Linked DNA regions of Homo sapiens. The protein of the gene in region 1 interacts with the protein of each later gene in a pairwise test. Each region holds a gene or a part of one and is shown in the gene's direction. Other genes may lie near its edges.

Region 1 (7,345 bases):
ATTATAGCCACTGGCCCCTGAATCAGCCTTCCTACTTCTGTTTTCTACTGTCTTCCAGTTCATACGTCACTCTGCTCCTACAGCATCCAAACCACAATTTGATTTTGCTGTTTCTGCACTTAAATACCTGTAGATGCTCTCCATTTCCTGCCTTAAAAAGACAGACCAACATTGGTTAGAAAGTAATCCAAGGCCCTTTTAATCTTCCTCCAACCTGCCTTTCCAATTTGCCCCTCACTCCCAGTACCTCCAATTTCACTTCAACCACACAGAGCTCTTGGCCAGTTCCTATATAGGCTGTGCCTCTGTGCCTGTGTACGTCATCAGCCTTTATACATTCTAGTCCCTCAGCCACTGCTCATCCTTCTTGATCCACCTCCTCTACTGGTTTTTTGGGGGAGCCTTCCTCTCCCTAGGAAGAGTTAGATATTCCTTCCTTGGTGTATGTAATGAATGTCCATGGTATAACTGGCCCTACTTAAGCATTCTGACACTGGATGACAGTTTGTTTCTCTTTCCGTCTGCCCCTTTCATTAGATGCTTACTTCTGGAGAGTGAAGCCTTGATTTTTTTTTATTTTTTGACTCCCTACCTACATCCCATCCCACCATCGGCCGTGTACACCTCCATGGCCCAAACCTAGTGCTGACACTAACCACGAACTTTGCTTTCTAGCAGATCGAAAAAGCTTCTGCACAATCCACAGCACAGGCTATTTGAAAAGCTGGCCACCCACAAAGATGGGGCTGGATGAAGACAACGAACCAGACAATGAGGGGTGTAACCTCAGCTGCCTCGTCGCAATTGGACGACTGCATTCTCATGTAGTTCCACAACCAGTGAACGGGGAAATCAGGGTGAAATCTATGGAATATGTTTCTCGGCACGCGATAGATGGAAAGTTTGTTTTTGTAGACCAGAGGTAAGAGTCTACATACTACCCTTGAGCAATGATGGTAGAGGATTTTCAACCCTGATCTAAAAAGCAGAGAAGACTGGGCCATCAGCTGGCTTTTCTAAGAATGAAGAAAGAAAGAAAAAGCTGGGTGCAGTGGCTCACACCTCAAATCCCAGCACTTTTTGAGGCCAAGGTGGGTGGATCACTTGAGCCCAGGAGTTTGAGACTAGCCTGGGCAACGTGGCAAAACCCTGTCTCAACTAAAAATACAAAAATTAGCCAGGCATGGTGACACATACCTGTAGTCCCATCTACTCTGGAGGCTGAAGCAGGAGGATCAGCTGAGCCTCGGGAGGTCAAGGCTGCAGTGAGCTGTGATTGCACCACTGCACTTCCGCCTGGGCAACAGAGTGAGACCCTGTTTCAAAAAAAAAGAGACAAATGATGAGAGTCTCTGTTAAAAAATGAGATTCAATAGGATATCATCATAAATACAGAGATTTTTCTGTCATTCTTTGGCATATAGAGACAATTAAGTGGGGTGCCTTGATGTCCATGGCTAAAAGAAAAACAGTAGGGATAGCATGCTGTCTGAATCTATGGAATGTTCCAGAACCATTATTGTGATTGAAATTCTTTTGAATCTAGGACTTGGAAGCAATTATTTAGTCCTGAGCTGTCCAATAAAATACTCGTTGGCCATGGTAGCCTCCCATGTGGCTAACGGCACAGACATAGAACATTTCCATCATCACAGAAAGTCTTGTTGGACAGCGTTGATCTAATCCAACCTCCTTATTTTATGGATGAAGAACAGAGGCCAGCCTGGGGACTGGTCTCCTGTAGGATTCACAATTAATTGGTAATAGACCTGGACCAAGGACCCAGGTGTCCCAAATTTACTGCTGCCTACTGCTTTCCCTCAGAATATGCACAGGCTAATAATTTTTCTGGCTACTAGAGACAGCCACAACATGCTGGAAAAAGAGACAGCCTCAGCTGTCTTGTGGCCTCAGCTGCTGCAGCTTCTGGCATTTGGTTGTCCTGATAAAAAGGAGGCAGCAAAAACTAGAAGCCTTGCACTGAGGTTTAGATTTATACCACATTTTAATCTAATTAATGTGGTTCCTTTTTTAAAGACAGATCTCAGTCTGTCACCCAGGCTAGATCTAGTGCAGTGGCGAGATCTTGGCTTACTGTAGCCTTGACCTCCCGGGCTCAAGCAGTCCTCCCACCTCAGCCTCCCAGGTAGCTGTGACCATAGGCATGTGCCACCATACCCAGCTCATTGTTCTGTGTTTTTGGTAAAGACAGGGTTTCACCATGTTGCCCAAGCTAATCTTGAATTCCTGAGCTCAGACAATCTGCCCAACTCGGCCTCCCAAAGTGCTGGGATGACAGGCATGAACCACCATGCCCGACTGGTTGCAATTTTTAAAGCCCCCTCAGATTTGATTTCTTGTGATAATAGTCCCTTTACAAAGGCTTTGCTCTGTTTCCCTCTATTTTTATAGCCTTGATTAAATTCAGATGCCTGAAAAAAAGAGAGAAAGATCCACACAGTGAGCCCTCTGAAAATCCATCCAGCTCTTTTGCCTGCAGCTTTGACCTTGCTCTCATAGGCTGTAGCAGGGTTTATCCATTGCAAAGTTGCAATTAATCATCTGAATGGCTTTTTCTTCTTTAAATATTCCTTTATTCCCTTTTAGGGCAACAGCTATTTTGGCATATTTACCACAAGAACTTCTAGGCACATCGTGTTATGAATATTTTCACCAAGATGACATAGGACATCTTGCAGAATGTCATAGGCAAGGTAAGCTAGGATGTATGAAAGATCTTAAGTTGAAAGTGTCCCCTTGCTTCTAGACTAGTCAACATGACCTTCCAGGGAAATCTGTCCACTGAGGATGTAGAGTCAGCCAGCCTAGGACTCTTCAGGTCAGAACATCTGTGTGAAGAGGAAGCTGATACCTGCAGGCACTGTTTATCCCCCTTGTAGTTGCCCTGTGCTGACTGCATGGCAGTTTCTGAAAGACATCTCTTGTTCAGAGGGTTTTCCCAGACCCTGTAAAGATTTAGTATGGCCCAGACTGATCTGATTCTCTTTTCCATTCAAGCCTGCACTACCTCCTGTGTTTTCTGTCTTGACTAATGCTGTGGCTTCATGTGCAGGCTCCTGAGAGAGACCAACATTGACCCCTTCTTTCACTGTGTCTCCACCAGATCCTGTTCATTCACCTCAGACATGCATTTCCAAAAGTCTACTTTTTACCACCTCTGCCATCACCCTGGTTCAGGCCCTCGTGCCTACTTAGAGACCTGTGATAGACTTCTCAGGGTTTCTCTGATCCCTCTCACCCCCAGTTCATCTTCCATAGTTATCCTATTTATCCCCAGATAGATTGAGCCTGGTAACATCAGCCTGCTTAAAAACCTCCTGCTTTAGACTCAAGCCCAAATGCTTTTGACAGGCAATCAAATGTGAGACCTTCCACCTTCTGGCCCCAGCCCACCTCCTCAGTTTCAGTCCCCATCCCTGCCTGCAGAGGCCTGTGCTCCAGGCACACTGACCTCACTGGCCTCTCCCCAACCAGACCCTGCTGCTCCTCAGGCACTGCTGGGTTCTTCCCTCCCTCCTTCTCTTGGCAAACTCGTGTTCATCCCTCAAGGCTCTGATCTCTTCTCCCTGTATAGCCTTCCCTCACTACTCTTCTTGAGGGCAGGAGTCATAGCCTGTCTCCTCTTGTATCTCCAGTGCCTGGCACATGAGAAGGGCTCATTACATGTTACATGAAAGAATGAGGTTGAATAGGTGAGTAGCCTCTGTTGATTTGGATGTTCTTAGAAATGAGATAAGTTCTATATTGCCCTTGGGCTTTGTGATTGAGATAAAGCATGACATTTTGGACAGTGCCTTCTCATTTGCTGGTGGTCATGTTAGAGCTGATTCCAGTTAGATGTATAACATGCAGTCAGTAATTCCCTAGAGCCTCAATTTTACAGACTATGGAAAATCATGACAGCTTCACAAATGAATTGAAAGGCTCTGAGTTAGACCCTCAGAAACAACCTATTTCCTGAGTGTTGACCACTGCAGTTTCCTTGGCTTACTAAAGAGCGATGTCGTTGGAGCTCAAGTACCTTTAATATTTTGTATTGGATGTCCTGTTTAATACTTTGGTCTGAGAAAACAACAATGTCCATGTTTTCTTTACATTTTCAGTTTTACAGACGAGAGAAAAAATTACAACTAATTGCTATAAATTTAAAATCAAAGATGGTTCTTTTATCACACTACGGAGTCGATGGTTCAGTTTCATGAACCCTTGGACCAAGGAAGTAGAATATATTGTCTCAACTAACACTGTTGTTTTGTAAGTACTTTTCCTATATCTGAAGCTCCCCTTGCTTCAAACAGATGCCTAGGGTTCCTCATCTGGGAAATGGGGTGCAGGCAACATCCAGTATCACATCCTTTAATGCCATCTTGCTAATACCTGTGAAGCCTCAGGACTGGCAGAAGCTAGAAAGGATTGTTAACAAAGGGACAAGCTTCAGGACTTGTACCATGCAGGCCCTGGCTTATGAAACTGCTCCAGGAAATAGCAACATTTCCTTCCAGATAAAGCAGCTAACCTTTGAATTCCACAGGCCCTGCACCCTAGGCATCCACTTGTGCTGCTGTGGAGGAAGGGGTTGGCAATCTATGAAAGGCTCATTCAGGCACTAGCTCACACTGGCCTTGGCTGAGGATGGGGAGGTCTCCATACCTGTCAGGCAGGGGGCCCAAGCACTGGCAGCTGGAATGCCATCTCAAAAGGCTGCTACCTGCTAGATGAGCAGAGGGAGGTGAAGGAGCCTCTCTTTGGCCAGGCCTGCTCCCCACTTTTCCTTCCCCATAGTGTCCAAAACCCCACCTATGGTAAGAGCTGTGTGAGGGGCCGGGGCTAGGTGCACTGCAGGCTGGCAGGAGGAGGTGCTGTAATGATGGCAGTAGGTTACTGCAGCCACCACCTCTGCTGAACTGTGTCCCACACATATTAGGAAGGCCTAGGCAGGCAGTGGGGCCAAAGGCCAGGATGCTATCCATTATATTATCAAACAGTGAGACCTGTTTACCCACTCAGACAGACACTTCATTTTCTGGCCTGTCCAGGTCCAGAGTGGACACCGGACACCTTGGCCAAGTTGAATGGTGCACAGTTCTGAGCAGGCCTGACTCACGTTTCCTTATTGCTGGGATGTTCACAGAGCCAACGTCCTGGAAGGCGGGGACCCAACCTTCCCACAGCTCACAGCATCCCCCCACAGCATGGACAGCATGCTGCCCTCTGGAGAAGGTAACTATGTGCTGCTGGGGCCCTGGGGCTTGCCCGTGGGAAGGTGCTTGTGGTCAAATATCCTCCCCTAAAGTATTCAGGGTCCCCTCCATTCATATTCTGTGGAACAAGGGAGGCCTCGAGGGGATGATGTGCGGATTTCCCCATGAATGCAGAGGACACTGTCATGTCACTTTCTCTGTTGAGCCGGAATACTAGGAGCTCACTGCTGCACTTCCCAAAGCTGCTGGCCCCTGGAAGCCCTTGAGCTCGCAAACTCCCTACTCCCCTTGTGCTTTCCTCCTGTGTTGGCTAGTGGCCATGATGTGAAGTGCTCTTTCGTGACTGTCACTAACTCCTGTGGTTGGCAGGCAGGTGTCTTTCGGCACCAGGGTGTGTACCATACCCACTGGGCTCCCTTCTCAGGCTCAGCCTTGGCCCTGCCCCTGCTGTCCACGCTGGACTCATCCTTCCTGGGACCATCCCCACATGCATGGCTGCAGCCCCCATCGATGACTCCCACATCCACATCTCCTGGCCCAGTCTCTCTCCCGAGCTCCAGATCTGTCTCTCCAAATGCCTCATAGACAGAACCACCTGGAGTCTCAGAGGCACCTGAAATTCAGAATATCCCAAGCTGATTTTCTGCACTCCCCTACCTGATTGGTTGTTTAAGCCAGAAACCTGGCTGTTGTCTCTCCCCCATTATATCTAAACACGGAGTCCTGAACCTTCTATCTCTTAAACTTCGTCACCACTATTGCTATTTCACCCTCCTCATCTGCTGCCTGGATTATTGCAAATCACTTCGCAACTCTAGTCCCCCTCTCCCCACCCCATCCTCCATTGTAGTTCATTCTCCCTGCCGTGGACTTTCTAATAACCCAGTTCTCATTTGTGCCTTTTCTGTGTATCGTCCTTTGGTACTCCTCATTCCCTTGTGGAAACTGTCCAAATTCGTTAGTACGGCATCCAAGAGGCCCCTCATGATCGGATTGGTACCTGCTGCCCCAGTTTCATCTATCATGCTCTCATCATCATTTATGATGAATTCCTTGGAGGAGTCTCCCAAGTTTTAACCTGCCTCAGTGCTCCTGCACGTGTTGGTTGCTGTGCCTGGAATGCTTTCTCCTCCTTACCTCTCTGCCAAGCTAATTCATATTCATCTCTCAAGACTCAGCTCGGGGTTAACTTGCTCCAGAAGCTGCACCTGGCCCCAGATGAGTTGGTTGCCTCGTGCTTGCCTGTCAAACTTACAACATTTTGCTTTAGCCATTGTTCATCTTGTTGGTTTTCCTGTTAAACTGTGAGCTCCTTGAGGGCAGGGACTTGTCTCTGTAACCCTGGCACATACAGTGGTCTTCAATAAACGTTTTTTTTCAGTGCATGAAGGGAAAGAATTAGATGCTGTATGAAGGGAAAAAACTGGCCTCAGATCCTAGAAGGAAACTTGAGCCTTTCCCTGCTGGAATGCCTTTTCCTGACAAGCTGTAGCCCTAAAGTCCCTCAAGGCACAACTCTGATGTTGAACTGCAAATGGATCATGGGATAAACTGGTTTTACTTTAATACATAATAGTATTTCTTCCTCAGTTTTCCCCTTTCCTACTCTCAGATTCCTTTGTTGTAGGTGGCCCAAAGAGGACCCACCCCACTGTTCCAGGGATTCCAGGGGGAACCCGGGCTGGGGCAGGAAAAATAGGCCGAATGATTGCTGAGGAAATCATGGAAATCCACAGGCAAGTAACACCTTCTAGTTCCTCTGTTAAACCAGTGGTTCTCAACCCAGGGAAATTTTTTCCCCCAGGCAATATTTTGCAATGTCAGGAGACATTTTTGGTCTTCACAACTGGGTGGGAGGTTGCTACTTAAACATCCTGTGGATAGAGACCAGGGATGCTGCTTGTTAAACATCCTACAGTAAACAGGACAGTTCCCTCCTCCCCACCCAACAAAGAATTATCCAATCCAAAATGTTAGTAGTGCCTAGATTAAGAAATCCTGCCTTAAATAAAGAAGCTAAACCAAAATAGCCCAGCGCTAAAGAGAATTCTTGAGAAGACTTAACTTTCTTATGGCTCAAGGAGCTTCTCAGTGCGGATAGATGTACCTTTACTTTACAGGAA
Region 2 (7,345 bases), on another chromosome or scaffold:
TCATGCCACTGCACTTCAGCCACTGCACTTCAGCCTGGGTGACAAAGTGAGATGTCATCTAAAAAAAAAAAAAAAAAAGATTACTAATACATATTATTGGCAAGTGTGTGGAGATCAAGCCTTAGGTGCACTGCTGATGGGAATATAAATTTGTACAGTCTTTCTGGTACATAATTTGACAGCCTATCAGAATTTTGAATGTGCTTATCTTTGATCCATCAGTTGTTTTTCAAGGGATTATTTCTAGGAAAAAATTGGATAAATACCCTATAATTTGTAAGATGTGTGCATAAAGGTAAAGATATATACTGTAAAGTTTATAATAGCAATTTTTTTTTTTTGAGATGGAGCCTCGCTCCTGTCGCTCAGTCTGGAGTGCAGTGGCACACTGCAACCTCCACCTCCCGGGTTCAAGTGATTCTACTTCCTCAGCCTCCCGAGTAGCTGGAATTACAAGCATGTGCCACCATACCCAGCTAATGATTTTATTTTTAGTAGAGACGGGGTTTCACCATGCTGGCCAGGCTGGTCTTGAACTCCTGACCTCAGGTGATCCACCCACCCCAGCCTCCCAGAGTGCTAGGATTACAGGCATGAGCCACCGCACGCCGCCTAGAATAGCAATTTTTTTAAACCCACCATTGGAATAGCCCTTGTCTAATCTGGAGGTGTTTGGTGAATTATAGTATGTTACCATATAGGCAGTTAAATAATGGTAGAATTTTTTCTTTATGAGATAAATCAGAATAGACTTAGAATAAAAAAAAAACTTTCTCCTTAAGAAAAATCAATTCCTTTAAGTCACAGTTTCCTCATTTAAAATCAGTATAAGGAGATGTACAGAACTTATTAACATAGCTCCTGATAATAAGTAACTGCTATTATTATTACCATCTCCAAATTTTTCAGTTAACGTTTTTTAGTAATCAGAAAGAAAATATTTACATACACACACACACACGACCTCAGCCAGGCAGCTTATACCATATCAATATCAAAGGTTAGTTAAAGACCAGTTCTTAGACTCAACAGACATAAATTCAGGTGGTCTGGCTTTCTGTGAACTCTGGCAGGTCCCTAAGTTTTAAAAATAAACTTATCTCCAAAATGGAAATACTAACCAAAGTGCCAAACTCTGAGTGTTGTTTTGAGGCTCAAATGAAATAATGTAAGTATGAGTAATTTGAAAAAGTAAAGTGCTCTACAAACACATTTAGTATAAGAGCTGGTTTTAAGCATATTGCTTTGCTAGATTGTTGCCTAGCATAATGCCTAGAATCTAATGGGTTATGCATTCATTACTTATGTATTTTTTAATTGATAAATTGTTTACTTTTTCCTGCATATTCAAAGTTTGATTTATGTATAATCCTTTGATATGTAGATTTTCAGCTTTTTCACTTTTCGTTATAATAGAAAAAATAACTATTACAATTGGTGTACATTGTTCCCCTTTCTCTTACTTTAGGAATGGAACATTACTAAACTTTCAATTGAGTATGATTCTGAGCCCTTTGGAAAGGAACGAGACGCAGCTATTAAGAAACTGGCAACTGAAGCTGGAGTAGAAGTCATTGTAAGAATTTCACATACATTATATGACCTAGACAAGTGAGTCCTTTTTTTTTTTTTACTGTGGGAAAATGCGTATAACATAATATTTACCATCTTAACCATTTTTAAGTATATAGTTCGGTGGTATTAACTACATAGATAAGTTTTTAACTGAGGTTTATAAAGTAGAAATAACATGTACTTCACAGAGTTATGGGAGAATTAAGTGAACATATGTCAAATCCTTAGCATTTTATTTAGCTGCTATTGACCCAATGACAGGTATCAGCATTTCAGTTTCAAAACTATTATGGATTAAGACTATTACAGAATTTTCCTTGACTACTCTTAACTCAGCCTCCTGTGGTCTTGCCTTTCTGGGCTCTTAGCATTATCAATTTTATAGTTATATATAGTTATAAATTGCCTTGACATATTTTGTATGCTTGTTTAATGTTATCTTATTTCATGTATATCTATTATGTCTGTCTGGATTTTAAATCCAGATGCAAATTGGATGTAATATAACATTGCATAGCTGTAGTCCTCTGAACAATGGCATAATAGAATATTTCCCAAAGTGTATTTCTTCCAGCACCAGTCCTTGGTGATGCTTTGTCCCACAGAAATTCTGTGGTCAAACTTAAATTTAGGGAGTGTTATATGCTATGAGTCTTAGAGGTCTGTAAAACTTAACTTTTTAAAACTTTTGGCATACCATTGTCCTTTTAAGTACTGAAATCTTATAATTTATTTACCTTTTAAATCATTTTACTTTTTTAGTAATTTATGTATTTTATCAAGTTAGTAAAACAAATTCTGTAACATGACAAACTAGTTGATTTGATTTCACATTTTAAATGTATCAAAAAATCATGATTTGATTCAGACAAAGGTCTTGATACTAAGCTAGAATTCATATATCTTTTAATAATAATCTTGCCTTCGAGCTCACCAATTTGCTTAACTTTAAGGAGCTCATAGCAAGGAGGGGGCAACACAGGATAAAAGCAGTTGCTTCTAAGTGGGAGACTCAGTGTTATGCATAAAATTGTTTAGGCTAGGCGCGATGGCTCACACCTGTAATCCCAGCACTTTGGGAGGCCGAGGCAGATGGATCACGAGGTCAGGAGTTCAAGACCAGCCTGGCCAAAATGGTGAAACCCTCATCTCTACTAAAAATACAAAAATTAGCCAGGCATAGTGGCGGGTGCCTGTAATCCAGCTACTTGGGAGGCTGAGGGAGGAGAATCACTTGAACCCGGGAGGCAGACGTTGCAGTGAGCCAAGATAGCACCACTGCATTCCAGCCTGGGCAATAGAGCAAGACTCTGTCTCAAAAAAAAAAAAAAAAATCAAGTGTTTATTGGATTGAATGTGAATATTTACTATATGTAATCTATCATATTAAAATGTAACATATAGAAAATGTTTTGTCCTAAGATTCTCATTTTGCTACTGTTGTGTAATTAACAATGTCCTCAGTAGTATTATTGTAGCATCATTACATTCAGCAAAATTCATTGCAACCCTATGAATAAATTCAAAATACACCAAAACAAAATTTACTTAAACAGGATATCTTTTATGGTGATTGCTTTCTGTATTACTTTCTGTATGTATCTGTAGTTGATACATCACTACGTATTGTATAATGAAAAATACACTAAAATACACTAAGAAAACCTTGATTTGCCGTTTATCAGTTATATGACCTTGACTAGTTTACTTAACTCTCCTGGTAGGCCTGTTTTCACATCTATAAAATGATGGAGTTGGATTTCACCTGTCATTTTTTATTAAGGCCAAATGCTAAGCAAATGGCCATAGTGAAAAAGAGTAGTTATTCCAAAAGAGTGTCTAAACTTAATCTTTAACTACCATTGGCAAAGCTAGTTATTTTTTTAATTAATAATTGATTGAGTTAATTAATGATCAGAAGTAAAAAGATACTTAAATTTAAATAACTTGAAATTTGGGGGCTTATGTGTTCTAAGTATGTGACATAGATACATATGCTGACATCTCTCATGCCTTCATTAGCACAATAGAAAATAGGAAGTAATTGTCACCACAGTAATATAGAATCAAAATTTATAAAATTTGCTGAAGGAAATAGGGTAATTGTTTTAGTCTGTTTTCACGATGCTGATAAAGACATACCCGAGACTGGGCAATTTACAAAAGAAAGATTTAATGGACTTACAATTCCACACGGCTCAGAAGGCCTCACAATCATGGTGGAAGGCAAGGAGGAGCAAGTCATGTCTTACATGGATGACAGCAGGCAAGGAGGGATCTTGTGCAGGGTAACTCCCCCTTTTAAAAACCATCAGATCTTGTGAGACTTACTCACTATCATGAGAACAGCACGGGAAAGACCTGCCCCCATGATTCAGTTACCTCCCACAGGGTCCCTCCCATGATGTGGGAATTGTGGGAGTTACAACTCAAGATGAGATTTTGGTGGGGGCACAGCCAAACCATATCAGGAATGTAGGTCCAAGGATACAAAGTAGAAGTTATGTAAGATGAACAACACTAGAGGTCTAGTGTACAGAGTAAGGATTTTAGTTAATAAAATTGTATTTTATTTGGAATTTTAATCAAATAAGTAGATTTTAGCTGCTTTTGTCACACACATACAAAAAAGTAACTGAGATTATAAATATGTTAATCTGCTTCACTATAGTAACCATTTTACTATCTACATGTATCCCATAATGTGTTGTAAACTCAAATATATACAATAAAATTTATTTTTCCTAAATGAGACCTGCTGATTACTCTTTCATATAATTATCAACCTGGTTTAGTTTTTATTGATGATTGAGATTCTTTGAGCTGGGCCATAACATGTTTTTCATATGTCTGTGTGTATTAACTTTTTGTAATTGCCTTTAGACTAATTTCCCCTCTTACTTGTTTTTTCCTCTCATAAGTTTTTAATATTCTTTGTCTTAAAGGTTTAATATTTGTGTAGTATATTTGTGTAGTATATTTGATACCCAGAGGATGTCTAGAAGCTCAGGAGAATGATTTTTGGACTCATTAATCATTTTGGACACATTTCTTGGTCATTATAACAAGCTAACACCCTCAAAGACTTCAGTGATTAATTTTATTTTCTGCTTTTTAAGCCTTTTGGGAGCTTATTAGCCAAAATGTATTGTCTTTTTTAATACTAACTACATTTTACTAACTCTTGTTATAGGATCATAGAACTCAATGGTGGACAACCGCCTCTAACTTATAAAAGATTCCAGACTCTCATCAGCAAAATGGAACCACTAGAGATACCAGTAGAGACAATTACTTCAGAAGTGATAGAAAAGTGCACAACTCCTCTGTCTGATGACCATGATGAGAAATATGGAGTCCCTTCACTGGAAGAGCTAGGTGAGTGTAAACTGTAGTCAGTGTGAGGCTTGCAAGTTAATAAATCATAAATTACTCAGAAAATTCCCCTTTTAATTTTGCCATGTAAAGTATTTTGCATTAGGAGAGAAAGAAAGGGCAGGGGGAGAAGAAAAAGAACCCTTTAAGAAGTGATATGTTTGTTCATCATTTATGTGTTTTATAAATATGTGATCTATTGTTACCACCTTAAGATGTACATCCTGAAAAATTGAAACCATGTCATATCCTCTATAGGTGAGGGCTTATTTAGGCCTTCAGTTCATTTTTATGGTACTCTCTTAATTTTTCTGCAAAGTAATTTGTTCTCCCAGTTATTGGGGTTAAATAAAAATTAGTTTCGGAAGAATGATGTTTTTTTCTTTTCTTTCTTGTAGGTTTTGATACAGATGGCTTATCCTCTGCAGTGTGGCCAGGTGGAGAAACTGAAGCACTTACTCGTTTGGAAAGGCATTTGGAAAGAAAAGTATGATAATGTAGATTATATAGCTATGCTTGTATTTCCAAACTGCCATTTAAAAAATAATTTTTCTCTCTTTTAAAAATAACAAATAGATTGTTGAAAGGGGAGGATTAACAGAAATGGTTAAAATAGCACAAACCTAATTGTTTGAAAGTTAACTACCATCTCCTCATTTAAATGCTCTTTCTCCTTCTCTTCTAATTATTTCCCCTTTAGCTACTACCGCACTACCTCTTCTGTTCTTTCTACCTAAGCTAGTATCTAGTGGCCACAATTTCGAAACTAGAATAGAATTATATTTCACCTTTACCTTTGTGTTAAAGAGAGGTTGAAAGCCAGGCATGGTGGCTTACGCCTGTAATCCCAGCACTTTGGGAGGCTGACGCAGGTGGATCACTTGAGGTCAGGAGTTCAAGACCAGCCTGGCCAACATGGCAAAACCCCCATCTTTACTAAAAATACAAAAGTTAGCCAGGGTGGTGGTGTGTGCCTTTAATTCCAGCTACTTGGGATGCTGAGGCATGAGAATTGTTTGAACCCAGGAGGCAGAAGTCGCAGTAAGCCAAGATCGTACCACTGTACTCCAGCCTGGGTGATGGAGTGAGACTCCATCTCAAAATAAATAAATAAATTTTCCAGGCCTGGTGGCTCATACCTGTAATCCCAACACTTTGGGAGGCTGAGGTGGGCAGATCATTTGGGGTCAGGAGTTTGAGACCAGCCTGGCCAACATGGTGAAATCCCATCCCTACTAAAAATACAAAAATTAGCCGGGCGTGGTGGCGCATGCCTGTAGTCGCAGCTACTCAGGAGGCTGAGGCAAGAGAATCCTCCACCCGGGAGCTGGAGGTTGCAGTGAGCCGAGATTGAGCCACTGCACTCCAGCCTGGGTGACAGAGCGAGACCCTGTCTCAGGAAAAAAAAAAAAGAGAGAGAGATTGAAGGTGCTCTCAGCTTTCTGTTGGAAATTTGAAGGAAATTTATTTCACATGAGTATGTGCTGCACAAGGACGACTGAAACAAAAGAATGCTCACTTTTTTATCCTGTCTTATTTTTTATTAAAACATGTAATTTGTGGCTAGGATAAGATTTTATTCCCCAAGAACTATGTAACTTTAAAAAAAAAAATCTCCATTCTGAGTGTTCTTTTAAAATGAAAAAGACAATTAGTTAATATAATTTTCTCTGTGTGTTTTCAGGCTTGGGTGGCAAATTTTGAAAGACCTCGAATGAATGCGAATTCTCTGCTTGCAAGCCCTACTGGACTTAGTCCTTATCTCCGATTTGGTTGTTTGTCATGTCGACTGTTTTACTTCAAACTAACAGATCTCTACAAAAAGGTATTCTCTAAAATTAGAGCTTATTGTTTAATACTTTAAAAAAAAATTCTGATAATACTTCTTTGCTTTTTAACCATAGGTAAAGAAGAACAGTTCCCCTCCCCTTTCCCTTTATGGGCAACTGTTATGGCGTGAATTTTTCTATACAGCAGCAACAAATAATCCACGCTTTGATAAAATGGAAGGAAACCCTATCTGTGTTCAGATTCCTTGGGATAAAAATCCTGAGGCTTTAGCCAAATGGGCGGAAGGCCGGACAGGCTTTCCATGGATTGATGCCATCATGACACAGCTTCGTCAGGAGGGTTGGATTCATCATCTAGCCAGGCATGCAGTTGCTTGCTTCCTGACACGAGGGGACCTGTGGATTAGTTGGGAAGAAGGAATGAAGGTAAGTGTTCTAACTGATATAGCATGCCTTATTTTGAAGGAATCCTTACCTTAATAAAACAAATCCTAGAAGTTGTCTGTTTATAGATTCATTTATGGTGTAGTTTTTCAGTGGATAAAACATTTAATTCCCCAAATACGGGGACACTTTCAGAGAAAAATGGTATAATCAGACAAGCA
Region 3 (6,717 bases), on another chromosome or scaffold:
GCTCAAGCAATCCTCCCGCCTCAGCCTCCCGAGTAGCTGGGAACAGGAATGCACCACCATGCCCAGCTAAGTTTTTTGTAGAGAGGGGGTCTTGCCATGTTGCCCAGGCTGGTCTCAAACTCCTGGCCTCAAGCAATCCTCCTGCCTCTGCCTCCCAAAGTGCTGGGATTACAGGCATGAGCCACTGGGCCCAGCTGAAATGAGTTTTCTGTATCAATTGCAGACCTATGCTTCTGTGACTAAAGTTGATCAGTGGTAAATATGAAAAGAACTGGGTTTTCTAGCTGACTACAGATTTAATATCATCTAGCAACCTATGTGGCTGTTAACATAGCTGTTCTGTCTTTGGATGGTTTAAAATCATCTGACTCCCACACCACAGAGAAGAATCATTCTTGCCTTCCTCTCCAGTCAACAGCTCACAGCCATGGACTGCAGGACACTCCGCCTTGAGAACACTTTAAAATGGCCATTGCCCATCTGTAATGGCTTCCGTGCCACCAAGGTGATGAGGAATCCCAAAACTGTGACAGAGAAGCAGGTGAAGGAGCTGAGAACTGGAGCTCTCCCCCACCCCTCAGTGCCTGTATTAGTTGGGGCTCTCTAGAGGGACAGGACTCATAGAATAGATGAATCTATGAAGGGGAGTTTATTAGGAGAATTGACTCTCGATCACAAGGTGAGGTCCCACAATAGCTGAGGAGCAAGGAAGCCAGTCCAAGTCCCAGAACCTCGGCAAGTCTGCTCTTTCCAACTTCTGCCTGCTTTATTCTGGCTGTGATGGCAGCTGAAGAGATGGTGCCTACCCAGATTAAGGGCGGGTCGGCCTCCCCCAGCCCACTGACTCAAGTGTTCATCTCCTTTGGCAACACCCTCACAGACACACCCAGGATCAATACTTTGCATCCTTCAATTAAATTGACACTCAGTATTAACCTTGACAGCGCCCAAGGAGGGGAGGGCCAGACCCAGCGCACAGTTCCAGTTTCTGCCACGGAAACACTGACCATGTGTTGCTCTTAAGGTCGGAGCTCCAGGGCGGCGTTTCCCCGGGTTTCTGCGTTTATAAGTGATGTTAGTATCTGGTTTGCGTGTGCACAGGTGACATCTCAAAAGGATATGGTGGCTGTTTTCTGTCTTCATATAAGTTAGAAGCTTGCTTTCTCTCTCTCTGGAAAACTTGAGTAATGTGGAATGATCTATTCCCTGAAGGTTTGAGTATTCACCTAAGAATTGCCTTTGCTGAGCACATGAGGTGTGCTGTGTGCTTTTCCTAATTTATTATTATGAATCTGCCTTAGTGTTGTGTGCCTGAGGATTTTTCTGTGTTTCTGGGAACCATTTTGGTAACTGAGAGTTTTCTAGAAAGCCACCTGTTTGGTCCCTGTTTTCTCGTGGATTCGCACAGAGTAAAAGACAGTGCTCTTACCATTATTTCCATTTCCTTGTTCTGCCTGTAGCTATTTCTACTTTTACATTTCTGTTTATGCTTCCTTTTTCTGGATTAGTTTATACACTGTTTTTTGTCTTTTTCTTTGTGAGACAGGATCTTGCTCTGTCTGCCAGGCTGGAGTGCAGTGGCACAGGTATGATTCACTGCAGAACTCCTGGGCTCAAGAGATTCACCTGCCTTAGCCTCTCATGTAGCTGGGGACCACAGTGCTTACGGCCACACCTGGTGCTTACAGCCACACCTGGCTAATTTTCTTTTCTTTTTTAATGGAGACAAGGTCTCACTTTGTTGCCCGGTCTGGTCTTGAACTCCTGAAATTCAGCGATCCTCCCACCTCGGCCTCCCAAAGGGCTGAGATTACAGGTGTGAGCCACCATGCCCAGCCACTGTATTTCCTTTTTAATAGTGTCTTTTACTGATTTGTTTTCTACATATTCTGGAATACTTTTAATTGCATTTTTATGTTTAATTTTTTCAGTTGCTCCTAACTTTTAGAAATCGGTAGGATTTTGTATCCTAATTACATTTTAATAATTCTGAAAATGTCAAGTTACTTTCTAATCATCAGGAAAGTCAGTGGGTAGCAAAGAATATCCCAAGATTTCTCTGTTATCTTCCTCTGAGACATTGAGTAAAGTCCCATGCCAGCCTCAGGAGGCCTTGCAGTGCGGAGGATCAGCACACGGTCTGGGCGTTGGACAGCCTGGGTGTTGACCACAGTGTTCTGTGTTAGCTGTGTGACCTCAGAAAATTGTCTCATCTTTCCAAGCCCGACGACTTCATCTAGAAAGCGAAGCTAGCGACAGCATCTGCATCCCAGGCTGTCGCGAGGGTCAGGCGAGCTGTGCTTGTAAGCGCTTGCCACGGCCGCCGGCACACGTTAATCTTGATCGGTCTTGATGATGGGCTGTAATCATCTTCAGTTCAGTGTCTCACACGGTCCTGTTAGACAGGAGATGCAGGCGTTCGAGCTGAGGGCCGCGTCACGGAGCCCATGCTGCCTTCGGTTTCTTTTTAGTCCGCAAGTGGGAAATCGATAGTAGTGGACTTCAAACGGCTTCGGACTGTGCAGACGACGGGCAGCGATGGACAGATGCCATTCAGTGTGTGGTGTGTGTGCACGCCTGTGTTTTCTCTTGTTTCATTCTGTTTTTTCTTCCTCCTCGTATGGTATTTCTTTTGTGGGATAACAGCAACAGTTGTGAAGGGCCTGAGATGTTATCCTGTTTCCAAGCTGTGGAGTTAGCTGCCACTTTCATGGATGCTGGCAAAAAATGTAAGATTCCTACGTTAGAGAGGAAGGCTATTTATTACACAGCAACAGCAGTACAGCCAGAGTGGCATTCTTCCCACCAGCCACGGGGCCCTGATTCCTCAGGGTCTTCACCGAGGGCCTCATGAGGCCTGCAGTGGGCTGTGTGGCTGGAGAGGAATCCTGAACTTAGAACACCCAAATCCTTGCTACTGGGAGGCGAGCCTGCCTGCCCTTTGCCCCAGAGGGATGCAGTTTAGCTTACAAGGCTGTCCTCTAAACAGGCATCCTTGTGTAAATGCTTTGAACAAAGCCTTGTCACTGTCTGTGCTTGGAAGACATGCAGAAACATGACACCCATGGAGAACCATCTCCCCACCAGTCATCTGAGAAGTTAGCAGGCTTGTTTTAATGCTGGACAGATGCTTGGCGTGGACAGTCTAAGAGTTAACTAGGCTGCTCAGTATGATAGTGATGGGTGCCCCAGCCCTCCTCATGGAGGTGAGCCGCGCGCATTCAGCTTGTTTCTCATCGAGACAGAGGACAGCATTCTGTTAAGTTTCTGCTGCTGCCATGATAACAGAGCTCGCTGTCACATTCTGGCTCCCGCAGGCTGTGCCCCGGACACAAAGCAACTCTGTCTTTACCCTCGTGAGCGCGGCTTGGGCCATAATAGGACTTTTCTTTCATTTGTATCTATTTCTTATTGTAAGCCTTAGATCATTTATTCCCTTCCTTACACTTCTAGAGGTGAAAGAAAACCCAAGTCTGCCTTTGTAAAACCAAGCTGTGGCCTCAGGAGTCAGGGCTGGGGCACTCAGCCTTCCACCCCCCAGGCCTCCTCTGCCACAGGCCTGCTGCATCCGGCTGCATTTCAGTCGGGCAGCCGGTGGGTTTCCTGACATGCGTGATAAGAGTGGGTTTGAGTTTGGTTTGGCTTGTTTTTTACAGTTGAATTCTATATTATTTGGTCAAAATATTACTTTGCAATTTGCAAATGTGGTGGCACCTACCATTTTACTAGCCACAAGTAACTCATAAGTTGACGTAGGACCTGCTCATATTATACCAATATTTTAAGTATTTTATGTTTCATCTTATTAGTTATTCATTTTATTTTATCTAATGCTCTGCCAGAATTCATTCCAAAAGGTAAAAATTACTAAACTATAAGACTCTTAAATAAGGCGTGTATATTAGCAACTTAGTTTCTGACATATAGAACATTAACATTCCACTGTATCTTAAATGTCTTTTGCCTTTTTATTAAAAAATGATTAAATGGTTACTGAAGTTTTCCTCTGCCTGACATATAAATGTCTTCATATTCTAACATGATATTAGGGAACTAAATATATGAGTATAGACTTAATATTTCTTTTGTCAACTAAACTGACTAAATTTTGTCAAAGCAGATTGGAGACATAAAAACAGCTGAAAAGTATTTTCAAGACGTTGAGAAAGTAACACAGAAATTAGATGGACTACAGGGTAAAATCATGGTTTTGATGAACAGGTAAATATTTTAAAACTAAATATATGTTTTCTCAAATTTCCCAGAGGCGTTCAAGCCCCACTTACTGAGTTGGAAAGCTCCCTAGAGAAGGCGCTTCTCCCTGTATCTCCTCTTGCCCTGTGTCTCTCAGAGCGGAGACCCAAGGAGTATACAGGTGTTTTCTTGAATCGCAGTGATGTTCTTTTAGTCACAGAAGCTGATTTTTAAGGAGCTATTCCCCCTTGTTCTTCAGAGAAGCGCTTGTATTGCCCCCGTTTTCAGCGTATGTGTGTGTAAAGGTCACCATTGCTGGCGTAGCGGCCGTTCTGGATCCTGTGCTCTGGTGTTCTGTGTCTGGATCCCGTGCTCTGGTGTTCTGTGTCTGGATCCCGTGCTCTGGTGTTCTGTGGTAGAACGCACAGCGTCGTGCGAGTGCACGTTCGTGAGGAGGAAACACGCCTTGGACAAAGCCTGCAGCCAGGATCAGAAAGCGTAAATAAAGCAGGTGTCCGCTTTTAGCAGGAAGTCATTTAGGTGAAGTTACTCTATCTCAATTAACAAAAACTAGAGTGGCTTGGCCGGGTGCAGTGGCTCATGCCTGTAATCTCAGCACTTTGGGAAGCTGAGGCACGTAGATCACTTGAGGTCAGGAGTTTGAGGCCAGCCTGGCCAACATGGTGAAACCCCATCTCTACTAAAAATACAAAAAATTAGCCAGGCGTGGTGGCAGTCGCCTGTAATCCCAGCTACTTGGGAGGCTGAGGCAGGAGAGTTGCTTGAATCCAGGAGGCGGAGGTTGCGGTGAGCCGAGATCGTGCCACTGCACTACAGCCTGGGCAACGAGAGCAAAACTCCATCTAAAAAATAAAAATAAATAAAAACTAGAGTGGCTTTAATGTGCGAGCCTGAATGCAAAACGCAGCTCACCGCCTCTACCTGGAGATCAGGAACCCCGGGCCACACAGGGCCATACGCTGGGTCTCTGTGGGATCCAAAGCCCCTGTGGGTTGTGTTGGGGGACAGCAGCTCCTGGGCTTTCCCCGCTAACTGCCACCGTTGCTTGTGTTACAGCGCGTTCCTTCACCTCGGGCAGAATAACTTTGCAGAAGCCCACAGGTTCTTCACAGAGATCTTAAGGATGGATCCAAGAAACGCAGTGGTAAGATCCCCAAGCTGCAGGATCCTCCATCCTCTGCCTTTCACAGACGCTAGAAACATACACCCACACACGTCTCAGCAGGGGCCTGCGCTCTCTCTCTCCAGTCCACCAGCTCCAGGCAGTGGCTGTGGCCCTTAGGGGAAGTGACCCAACAGGGCCACCTAGGCTCTGCCCAGCAGCTCTGCACCACCCCCAGGCCCCTAACACGGCCCAGCACGCAGCCTGGAATGGGCGGGCGTCTGTCCTGGTTGTGTGGGCCAACCCTGGGCGTGTGCTCCTCCCTAGGCCAACAACAACGCTGCCGTGTGTCTGCTCTACCTGGGCAAGCTCAAGGACTCCCTGCGGCAGCTGGAGGCCATGGTCCAGCAGGACCCCAGGCACTACCTGCACGAGAGCGTGCTCTTCAACCTGACCACCATGTACGAGCTGGAGTCCTCACGGAGCATGCAGAAGAAACAGGCCCTGCTGGAGGCTGTCGCCGGCAAGGAGGGGGACAGCTTCAACACACAGTGCCTCAAGCTGGCCTAGCTGCCTCCAACACACTACGTCAGAAGGACCCGGGTCTTTGAAACTGTGTCTTGAAGCTAATGTATTAATGTGACATGGAGGAACTCAATAAAACTCCTGCTTCACTGGTGTCTGCTGCGTGTCTTCTTGGTCCCAAGCCACGGCCCAGCCCAGGACTTCCCCGCAGTTGGTCGGCGTTCAGCCACGCAGTCCCTGCAGCTGGGTCACTGTTCATGAATGCAAGGGGCAGGCGTGCTGGGAGGACACAGCTCGTAGACAGGAAATCTGGAGTCAGCCTCGGGGCCTCTGTTCTGGAGGCCAATCCTGCTTTGCTCGTTCCTTCTGGACATCCTCAGAGAAAAGCTGGGAGGTGTGGAGACCCTCTCGCCGTGCACCTGCACGTACAGGGAGATTTACAACAGGGAAGACACCCCCCACAGATCGCCGCTCATGCTCCTCTTGCCCTCCCCACACACCCAAAACTAAGTGCGTTGGTCTTACCCATCCGAGTCTCCTCCAGCCTGATGCCAGCCAAACGACCCCTGCCAGCCTGGCGGTGGAGGAGAGGCCATCACTGTTTCTCCCATAGTTTATACGTCCACGTGGAGAGTGAGCTGAGTGGAACAGGAAGCACGACGCATAATGAAGCACAGGAAGAGCGCGTAAAACGCAGGCAGGCAGGGGCTGGGGGTGGTTTTGAAGCCAGACACGTGTTTTCATGTGTTCTCTCATGCCTGAAAGGCCTTTTGCCCTTACGTTTACACAGTTATTCCTGCTTTTGAAGAACTTAAAGTACCTGAAAATGTCTTCACTTTACGAAAGAACTCTGCCAAGGGTTCTCTAAATATCTA
Region 4 (7,815 bases), on another chromosome or scaffold:
CCAGATGATGGAATAGTATTCAATGCTTTTAAAAAAAAGTGCTATCAAGCCACAAAAGACATGAAGGAACCTTAAATGCATACTACTAACTGAAAGGAGCCAATTTGAAAAGGTACGCACCATATGATTCCAACTCTATGACATTCCAGAGAAGGTAAAACTATGGAGACAATAAAAAGATCAGTGGCTGCCAGTAGTTGGGGGGAGGAAGGGATGAATAGGCACAGAATAGAGGATTTTTAGGGCAGTGGAGCTATTCTGTATTATACTATTATACCTTAATGGTGGATTTGTGTCATTACACATTTGACCAAACACACCAAGAGTGAACCCTCATGTCAACTATGGACTCTAGGTGATTATGATGTGTCAATGTATACAACAAACCTAGCACTGAGGGAGGGGATGCTGATAGTGGGGGAGGCTGTACATGGGAGGGGGGGTGTATGGGACCTTTCTGTATTTCCTCTCAGTTATTTAGAGTCAAAAGCTGCTCAAAACAATAATGTCTATTTATGAAAATCCTCTTAGAAGTAGATAGGATCTAAAATCACACTTTATTGTTAGAGAAAATGTACATGAAAGAACTTCCTCAGCGGGGCTTAAGCATAAGGAAATATTATTCTCAAGTGCCGGTATTGGCAATAATCTCACCTCTTTTTCAGATTTGTGTATATGTTTGTGCTAAGGCTTTAGGGCTTTGTCACCTCCAGACTCCTCCAGCCCTGTTTTCCTCCCTGGCTCCTCCACACGGTCTTTGTAAGGAAATCTTACTTCATTCTTTAGTTTGCCAACCACATGATCTAATAGGCACAAAAACCAAGTTAAGTCTTAACCCTACCAGGCAGGCTGTACAAGGCCTTGATTGTCTCCTGGTAGCATCCTCTGGCCCAGGCGGGAGGGCGAGAGCCTGCTGCCTCCTGCGCTCTTCTATTCTATGAAGCTTATGCAGAAACAGCACATCAAGGTGCTAACCTTGATATTGTTTCTTTTTTTAATTAATTAATTAATTTTTTTTTTTTTTTGAGAGACGGAGTTTCACCATGTTGCCCAGGCTGGTCTCGAACTTCTGAGCTCAAGCAATTTGCCCACCTCAGCCTCCCAAAGTGCTGGGGATTAGACATGAGCCACTGTCACGGCCTAATCTTGATATTTGAAACACATGATAGGCGTTCCTCAGTCTTGCTTTCAAAGGTACTCTTCATAAGCCCTGGCCTCTGAGTCAGTCTCCAATTATTGGGTTCTAAAGCCTCTTCTTCACGTTTATACTGACCCAACTTCCCTTTGCCTTGGTTGCTACAATTTTCTTCTCTAGCATAATGTTATTCTATCCAATGATGCGTGGTATTGTGTTTTTTCTTTTGAGTTTTGAAGTGAAAACTGATAATCAGAGGTAAGAATCCACAAATGGGCTTCTGGACATTCACATGAAGAAAGAGGGCCTTCCCACCTTGTGATTAACTAGAAAAACTGTGCTAACATCTGGCATGGAACCCTGTTCTTATTGTCTGTTCCAAAGCTTATGCTGAAGTCATTGAATGTATACATCCAACAAGAGTCCCAAGCCCTGGGCTAGTGCTGTAATTCGTATAGCAGCCCACACATTCTTGCCCTTGTGTAATACCACGAATGAACACCCATAGTCACCCAATACATATTTTGAAAATTTAATGTGTGCATATTTAAAATGAGGATATGCCACAGATTCAACTTCTATGATGGAAAAGAATATCCAATTTGACTGTGAGAACTTTGAATTATTTCACCGATACCTCTAAAGACTGATAAAATTGACTGCAAAAATTTTTTTATCCTCCCTTCCATACATTTGGATTCTTTGAAAAATATCTGGAGTTCCTGAATACATCAAGGCAACATTCAATCAGTAAAGCCATGTTCTTTTAAAGGCCCAATGACTGGAACTCAGTGAGAATGTCCCAAAACTGGCAATGCAGTTTTGAAATGGCTCTTTTGCTCCATGCTGCACATTTTGAACAATGCATAGATGATCTATTGTAGCTTGGCTTTGTTATTTGGTTAACGAAAAATCCAAGCACCAATGTCACCTCTTCCAAGAAGCTCATCCTGAGTCCTTCCTCGGCACCCATGGGACATCTGCTTTTGGCTTGGAGGGCTTTTCTGACCCTAGCCCTATTTGGCTGGTGTTTATGCCTGCCTCAACATAGTAAACCCTTTGTGTATAGAAACTGCCTTAATGTTCCCTTGATCCCTCACAGGCCAAGCCCAGCCTGACTCATGGCAAGCCTTCAACAGATGTCAGTAAAAGGAACTCAACCGTCAAATGCATAGAATGAACATGGGGTCAACTCTCCTCCGTAGCTCTCTTCCGCATGTGGGGGAAAGGGCCTAGTCTAACTGGCTTCTGTGATGCAGAATCCACTCTGCCTTATGGTCAGATAGGATATGTGGCCTATCTTAGAGGTATCCTTCCCATCTGGGTGAGATTAACATTAGGACACGGGATGGAGTTTGGAATAAATACGACAACCACATACACGTCATCTCCAGGACTAAAAAGGCAGAAACCACATTTAGTAGGGGCATCTACTGGACAACAGAGAAAAAGAGACCACAGCAAAAACACTTTTTGTACTGCAGAATTATTTGATGAGTTACTACTACAGGACATTCCAGGTTTCCTAAAAGAAAATTTAATGATTGTTCAACAAGTTCCCAAAAGGGAGTAGGAAAAGGGAGTTGGAATCTCTTCCAAAGCAAAAAAGGAAGGGAGGTGACTTTAAATAATGCTTTAAAACCGGTTAGAAGTACACAATTTCATCCTTTAGTAATATTAGTCATGGCCACGCTCTAAAGGCGGGGTGAAACCTACTTGCCTGGAGGAAAAGGACGGGGTAGAAAAACAAAGCAAAATAAAATCCATCAAACAAAAGTTTCTTCTTTTGGAAAGGGAGGGACTTCAAAATCATGACAGGCCAAATGCCTCCTCCTCTTTCTTGAAAAGCCCTCCAAGTCAGAAGCAAGCCTGAGAATAACAGCTGCTCTTAGGATGCTCAAAGCTCCTTGCAGCTGATTATTTTTCAGGAGGAGAATTAGACACAAATAATACAAGTGGGAAATAAAGAGAATGACCTACTTTACAGGGGGGGTAAAAAGGAGCTCTGTGTGAGCGTTTTGATCTAATTGACGGTGTGGGGTTGCATGCCCAAATAAGGCGCTGCTGGTCGGATCTGCGAGGGAGAGGGCACGTCTCAAACTCGAGGGAGAGGACGAGACAGCGAGAGGAACAGCGTCCGGGGCGACCCCCAGTCCACCGCGGGGGCCTGGCGCGCTTGGGGCAAAGGCCCTAGGAGACCCCTTCTGGCCACAAAATCGAGTATGACAGAAAAGGGCCAGCGGGGGCGCTTTCCTTCCAGGGCCACTTGCCGGAATGTAAGAGGGACGGAGAGACGTCCGGAAAAGGCTGCCACGCTCGGAGCGCTGCGCCAGGCCAGGCACCTAGGCCAGGGGAGCGGAGACCTCGTGGGAGCGGGCAGGGGGACCTTTCCCCTCTCCCGGGCTTCCACCCAGGCGCCTCCCCGCTGTGAACGCCGCCGCCCAGGTGAAGGGGAAACCGGCCACGTTTCCGGACCTCGGCGGGGCACACGGTCTCCGGTTTTCACCGGCTCTGTCTTGGAGCCCCGAAGGGCATCAGACAGCAGCCCCGGCACCCGGGGATTATTCCTGTACCTCTGCCTCCCTCCGCTTGGCGTTTGCGGGAACCTTGGTAAAATCCTCCCTGTTTCTCGCGCGCGCCTCTCTCTCCAGCTTCTTTTTCTTGGATTCTCGCCTGTCTCCTCCCACAGAGGAAAAAAAAAAAAAGGTCACGTATGTTTGGAAAAATATGTAGGTCAGTGGAACATTTCCTGCACTGGTGCAAAAGGAGAGGAGGGCAGCGGAGGAGGGGAGGGAGAGGCAGAGTGGAGCTCCAAGTGCCCGCTCCTGGCCGCAGCCCCACACCCCACGTGCCCCTGCCGGGGAGGGGGGCAATTAGCCGGTTCCTTTCCATCCTTGACCCATTTTCCGGACCAGCTACGTTCGCCTTAGGACAGGCACTGGTTATTCCTCCCCAGCAGTCGCTGCTGTCCTCCGCCGACCACCGCTCGCCCGCATCTTCCCCGACCCCCGCCTCCCACCTGCCCCCGGGCCGCACCCCCGCCGCTCATTGAGAAATCGCAGTGGTCCCCGCAGAGACGCGCTTTGTGCCCTGGGTCGAGACCTGCGCGCAACCCTGCCCCTGGAGGACAGTGTGGAGGGGGTGACAGTCGCGTGCTCGTCCCCCTTCATCCCCTGCGCGGGACAGCAGGGTGGCGGCCCGCACTGCGAGGGTCTACACTAGGCGGGGGCGGCAGATTCCTTGTTCCCCCCGAGTGACAACTTTAATGGGACCTCGGCTGGCAGCCTCTAGTCCACTTGCCTCTCCTCTGGGCCGGCTCACCTGGAAGCACAACCCCCCCCTCCCCCAGCCCCGGCGCCCAACCCCGACCCTGCGCCCCAGGCCCGACCCCGCCGCGCGTCCCTGGCAGCCCAGCAGAGGCTGCGGCGGCCTGGGGACTCGCGGGTGTCTGCGCCGCCCAGGGAAGCCGGGGGTCTAGGGGGCCGGGGGTCCGTCTGCCTGCGGCGCGCGCGGGGTGCTTGTCCCAGGCTGGGTCGGGGCCAGGAGAGACCCCGCAGGCGGAGGCAGGCGAGGGGAGGAGGAGGAGGGTGGGGGTAGGAGGGGGAGGTGGAGAGGGAGGAGGGTGGAGGGAGGAGGCAGGGGAGGAGGCAGAGGCGGAGGCGGCTCTCCCCGCCGGCTCTGCGTGCGGAAGAGTTTGCCGCGCGAGCAGCCGGCCTCTCGCAGGAGCCGAGGGACCCGCGCGGCTGCGGCCCAGGAGCGGCGGCCGCGGAGCCCGGAGACCCGCAGCCGCGGCGGCGGCGGCGGCGGCGGCAGCAGCTAGAGCAGCGCCTCCCGCCGCCGCCCGGGAGGAGCTCGCCGCGCCCGCTCGCCGCCTCGTCTCCCAGCGGCGGCGGGAGGCGCGTCTCCCCGGCCCAGTCCGCGCCCGGCCCCGCGGGGCCGCTCCGGCCCGCTCCGAGGTAAGGGGCCGCGCCTAGGGGCGCGGGGGACCCAGGGTGGGTAGTACGTGCGCGCGGGGTCGCAGGACTCGGTCACCTGCTCGCCAGCGTGGAGGACGCGCGGGGGCGGAGGGGCGCTCAGGCGCGAGGCTGCGCGGCACCGGGGACCCCGGACGCGGGGGCGCGGAGAGGTGGGTTCCCCTCCACAGTCAGGCCGCTGGGGGCTTCGCGTCCTGCAGGAGGTAGCAATCGCTGGGCCGGTGGGCTCCGGGCGCGTCTCGACGCAGAAGACAGAGGACTGGGCATCCGAGCCTCGGAATTTGGGGGTCCTCGGGGTGTCCGACAGGGTGGAGAAGGATCGTGCCCCAGGGCAACAGCTTTGGGGATTGCCCGTGGTTGTCTTCGAGACCCATCGCGCTACCCTCCGAAACGTCGGGCGTCCTGGACCCCCGGAGAGTGCGGCGTGCGCGCCCTGGGCCCGCGGTCTCTCGGAGTCCCTGGGTCGGAATTGGTTCCGGGCCGGATTGGGTGCGGAATCGGTGCCCCCAACCCCCGTGTGCGCAGACAGCGTGCAGCCTGGCTCCTCACGTCGCTGCCGCCCCCCCACCCCAACTCCGGAGCTCCCCAGGTTGGATGTATGCGTATGGTTTTGTTGGGAGATGTGCCCCTTTCCCAGCCGAGGAGGGACGCACCTTTGACCTTTCTGAAGAGCTGGGCAGGTCGGTAACCAGGGAAGGGACAGGCACCACCCGGCTAAATTCAGAACCAGTCCCGCTCCTCTGCTTGCCACTCCTTAATTGCTCAAGGTAAGAAAGTTTGTTTCAGCCCTGTGATTCATAAATAATTAGTAACTAGTTTTGTTGATTAAGCAAGATGGAAACCTTGAATATACGCACGCACTTCCACAAAGTCTAAACACTCCCGAGCTTGTGTCCGGGAGGCTTTAGTACGGAAAGTTAGAAGCCCTGGAGTTCAACAGGTGTTCAGGAGGGTCCCGGAGAGGAGTTTCGTCTTTACGCGTTGCTTTGGCATCCACCCCAACTTCATTAAAGTGGTTAGCCTGTTTTCCTACAGGTAAAACATTGATCACTTATTAAATTAACTTAATCAGCAGAGACGAGCTAAACCGTCTTGATCATTTAGAACCCAAACCTTATTTTCCTTAATAGAAAGGTTTTTCCTGTTTGAACTTCCCAGGTAATTAGTTCTAAAGTAGTTCCCAGCAAGACATCTCTGCCAGCATCTCTCTCTCACTGTAGCTTGGTCCCCATCAGTGAATTGACCAACTAATTATGGCTTGCATTAAACACAGAGCTGCCCTCCTTGGGAGGCACTGTTCACATTCAAGCGCACACACTAGCTCCATCTTCCTGCCACTAAGATGTCCTTAAAGGAAAAAGTTAGCCAAAAATAACCCCCAAATAAATAGTGTAATGTTTAAAAGAGTTATCCTGACCTGCGCCACTATTTTATAAAAGCAAAAATTCAGTGTTTCATTACAGCGCTAAACCAGGACCAGTAGAAGTATTGGTATCTCTCAGCAGTCTACTTAAATATTTAGTTAAAAATAAAGTGTGCAAAGTAAAGACGTTCAGTAATTATCTTCCATCTCACAGAGAGATGTGGAGTATGGCTTAGAAGAATTGTAAATGCGCTGCTTTTAGCCGTTTTCTTCTTGGAAATCGATGCCTCTATTTATTTGCTGATCTGTCCCACTGTGCGTAAATGTAGAATCGGTTTTATTCTCACTGCTTCCCAGAGGGGCTCCTGTGGAGGTGAAAGAAGGAAATACGTTCTAGAGGAAATATGTTATTAATAAAACGTTACCCCCAAAGAGTTAACCACGCCAAAAATAACCAAGTGAGGCTTTACTAATTAGTGGTCTGATGAGAGAGTGTTCAGATGATGACTAAAGAATTGATCTTTATGTAGAAAACAACAATTGTTTTTAAGCTCATTTGGTTCTCTTAAAACAGTTTGGGCCCTTTAAAAAAATTTCTGGCTGTTTAATAATGCAAATGATGAAAATCGTTAAAGATAACACATATAACCTGATGTGTGCCATGTTTAAGTTGAATTCACCCTATTTTTTTGAACAATCTTTCTTAACTCTTGGTAATCTTTATAGCTCACTCAACACTGCAACTTATTAGATTAAAAACTGAAAGTTAATTTTTTCAGAATAAAATAATAAGGCATGCGTATACTTTTTAATTTAACCATCTTTATATGTTCATTTTTTCAGAGTCTTGCTTTTGAATCTTAAGAACCCAAAGGGCTAAGTCTTCTTTCTTAATTTTTAAAACAAGCATGTGTTTTGTTCTTTACATGAATCGTCGGTTCTCCCAGTGTGATCACGACACTGTCCCATGCTGATTCCATGCACGGTGCAACTCTTTCCCAAGAGAGGTCAGATTTCGAGGTGTTGAAAATAGCCCAGTGACTCAGTATTCTTGGCTGCTTTATGCCAACGGTTTAATTGGCTGCATCATAGCAAGCATCTAATTGAGTTTCACATTTAAATAGTGGATAGGGTACTTGGTGCATTATTTGCTTACAGAAGTGTCTGATTAGCATGTTCCTGATCCTCGTTCTATTTGTAGCAAAGATGGGAGGTCAGGGACTGTCACATTTCATATTCCCCACAGCATCTCATCTCGATGGGGCCTTGTTCAGAATAGATGCTCAGTAAATAGGTGTGGGAAATGAGCTGAATTGTTGGTGGTCACTATCCAAAGGTGAGAA

What was found.
Region 2: the proteins of BMAL1 (region 1) and CRY1 interact in a two-hybrid assay, tested with the Homo sapiens proteins (3 studies listed by BioGRID, with this or other methods).
Region 3: the proteins of BMAL1 (region 1) and TRAPPC12 interact in binary tests that used the Homo sapiens proteins (3 or more experiments, as listed by UniProt).
Region 4: the proteins of BMAL1 (region 1) and NPAS2 interact in binary tests that used the Homo sapiens proteins (3 or more experiments, as listed by UniProt).

Annotation. Positions count from the first base shown.
Region 1 is NC_000011.10:13,371,488-13,378,832, forward strand, and holds part of BMAL1 (basic helix-loop-helix ARNT-like protein 1), read left to right. Parts: intron 1-675; coding exon 676-922; intron 923-2,607; coding exon 2,608-2,714; intron 2,715-4,124; coding exon 4,125-4,275; intron 4,276-5,057; coding exon of another isoform or gene 5,058-5,152; coding exon 5,153-5,241; intron 5,242-6,834; coding exon of another isoform or gene 6,835-6,849; coding exon 6,850-6,958; intron 6,959-7,345. UniProt on the Homo sapiens protein: Transcriptional activator which forms a core component of the circadian clock.
Region 2 is NC_000012.12:106,999,372-107,006,716, reverse strand, and holds part of CRY1 (cryptochrome-1), read left to right. Parts: intron 1-1,468; coding exon 1,469-1,611; intron 1,612-4,768; coding exon 4,769-4,953; intron 4,954-5,348; coding exon 5,349-5,437; intron 5,438-6,634; coding exon 6,635-6,775; intron 6,776-6,854; coding exon 6,855-7,166; intron 7,167-7,345.
Region 3 is NC_000002.12:3,473,575-3,480,291, forward strand, and holds the end of TRAPPC12 (trafficking protein particle complex subunit 12), read left to right. Parts: intron 1-4,120; coding exon 4,121-4,221; intron 4,222-5,018; exon of another isoform or gene 5,019-5,271; coding exon 5,272-5,359; exon of another isoform or gene 5,360-5,644; coding exon 5,645-5,887; 3' UTR 5,888-5,991; downstream 5,992-6,717. UniProt on the Homo sapiens protein: Component of the TRAPP complex, which is involved in endoplasmic reticulum to Golgi apparatus trafficking at a very early stage.
Region 4 is NC_000002.12:100,815,324-100,823,138, forward strand, and holds the start of NPAS2 (neuronal PAS domain-containing protein 2), read left to right. Parts: upstream 1-4,815; 5' UTR 4,816-5,091; intron 5,092-5,831; exon of another isoform or gene 5,832-5,876; intron 5,877-7,815. UniProt on the Homo sapiens protein: Transcriptional activator which forms a core component of the circadian clock.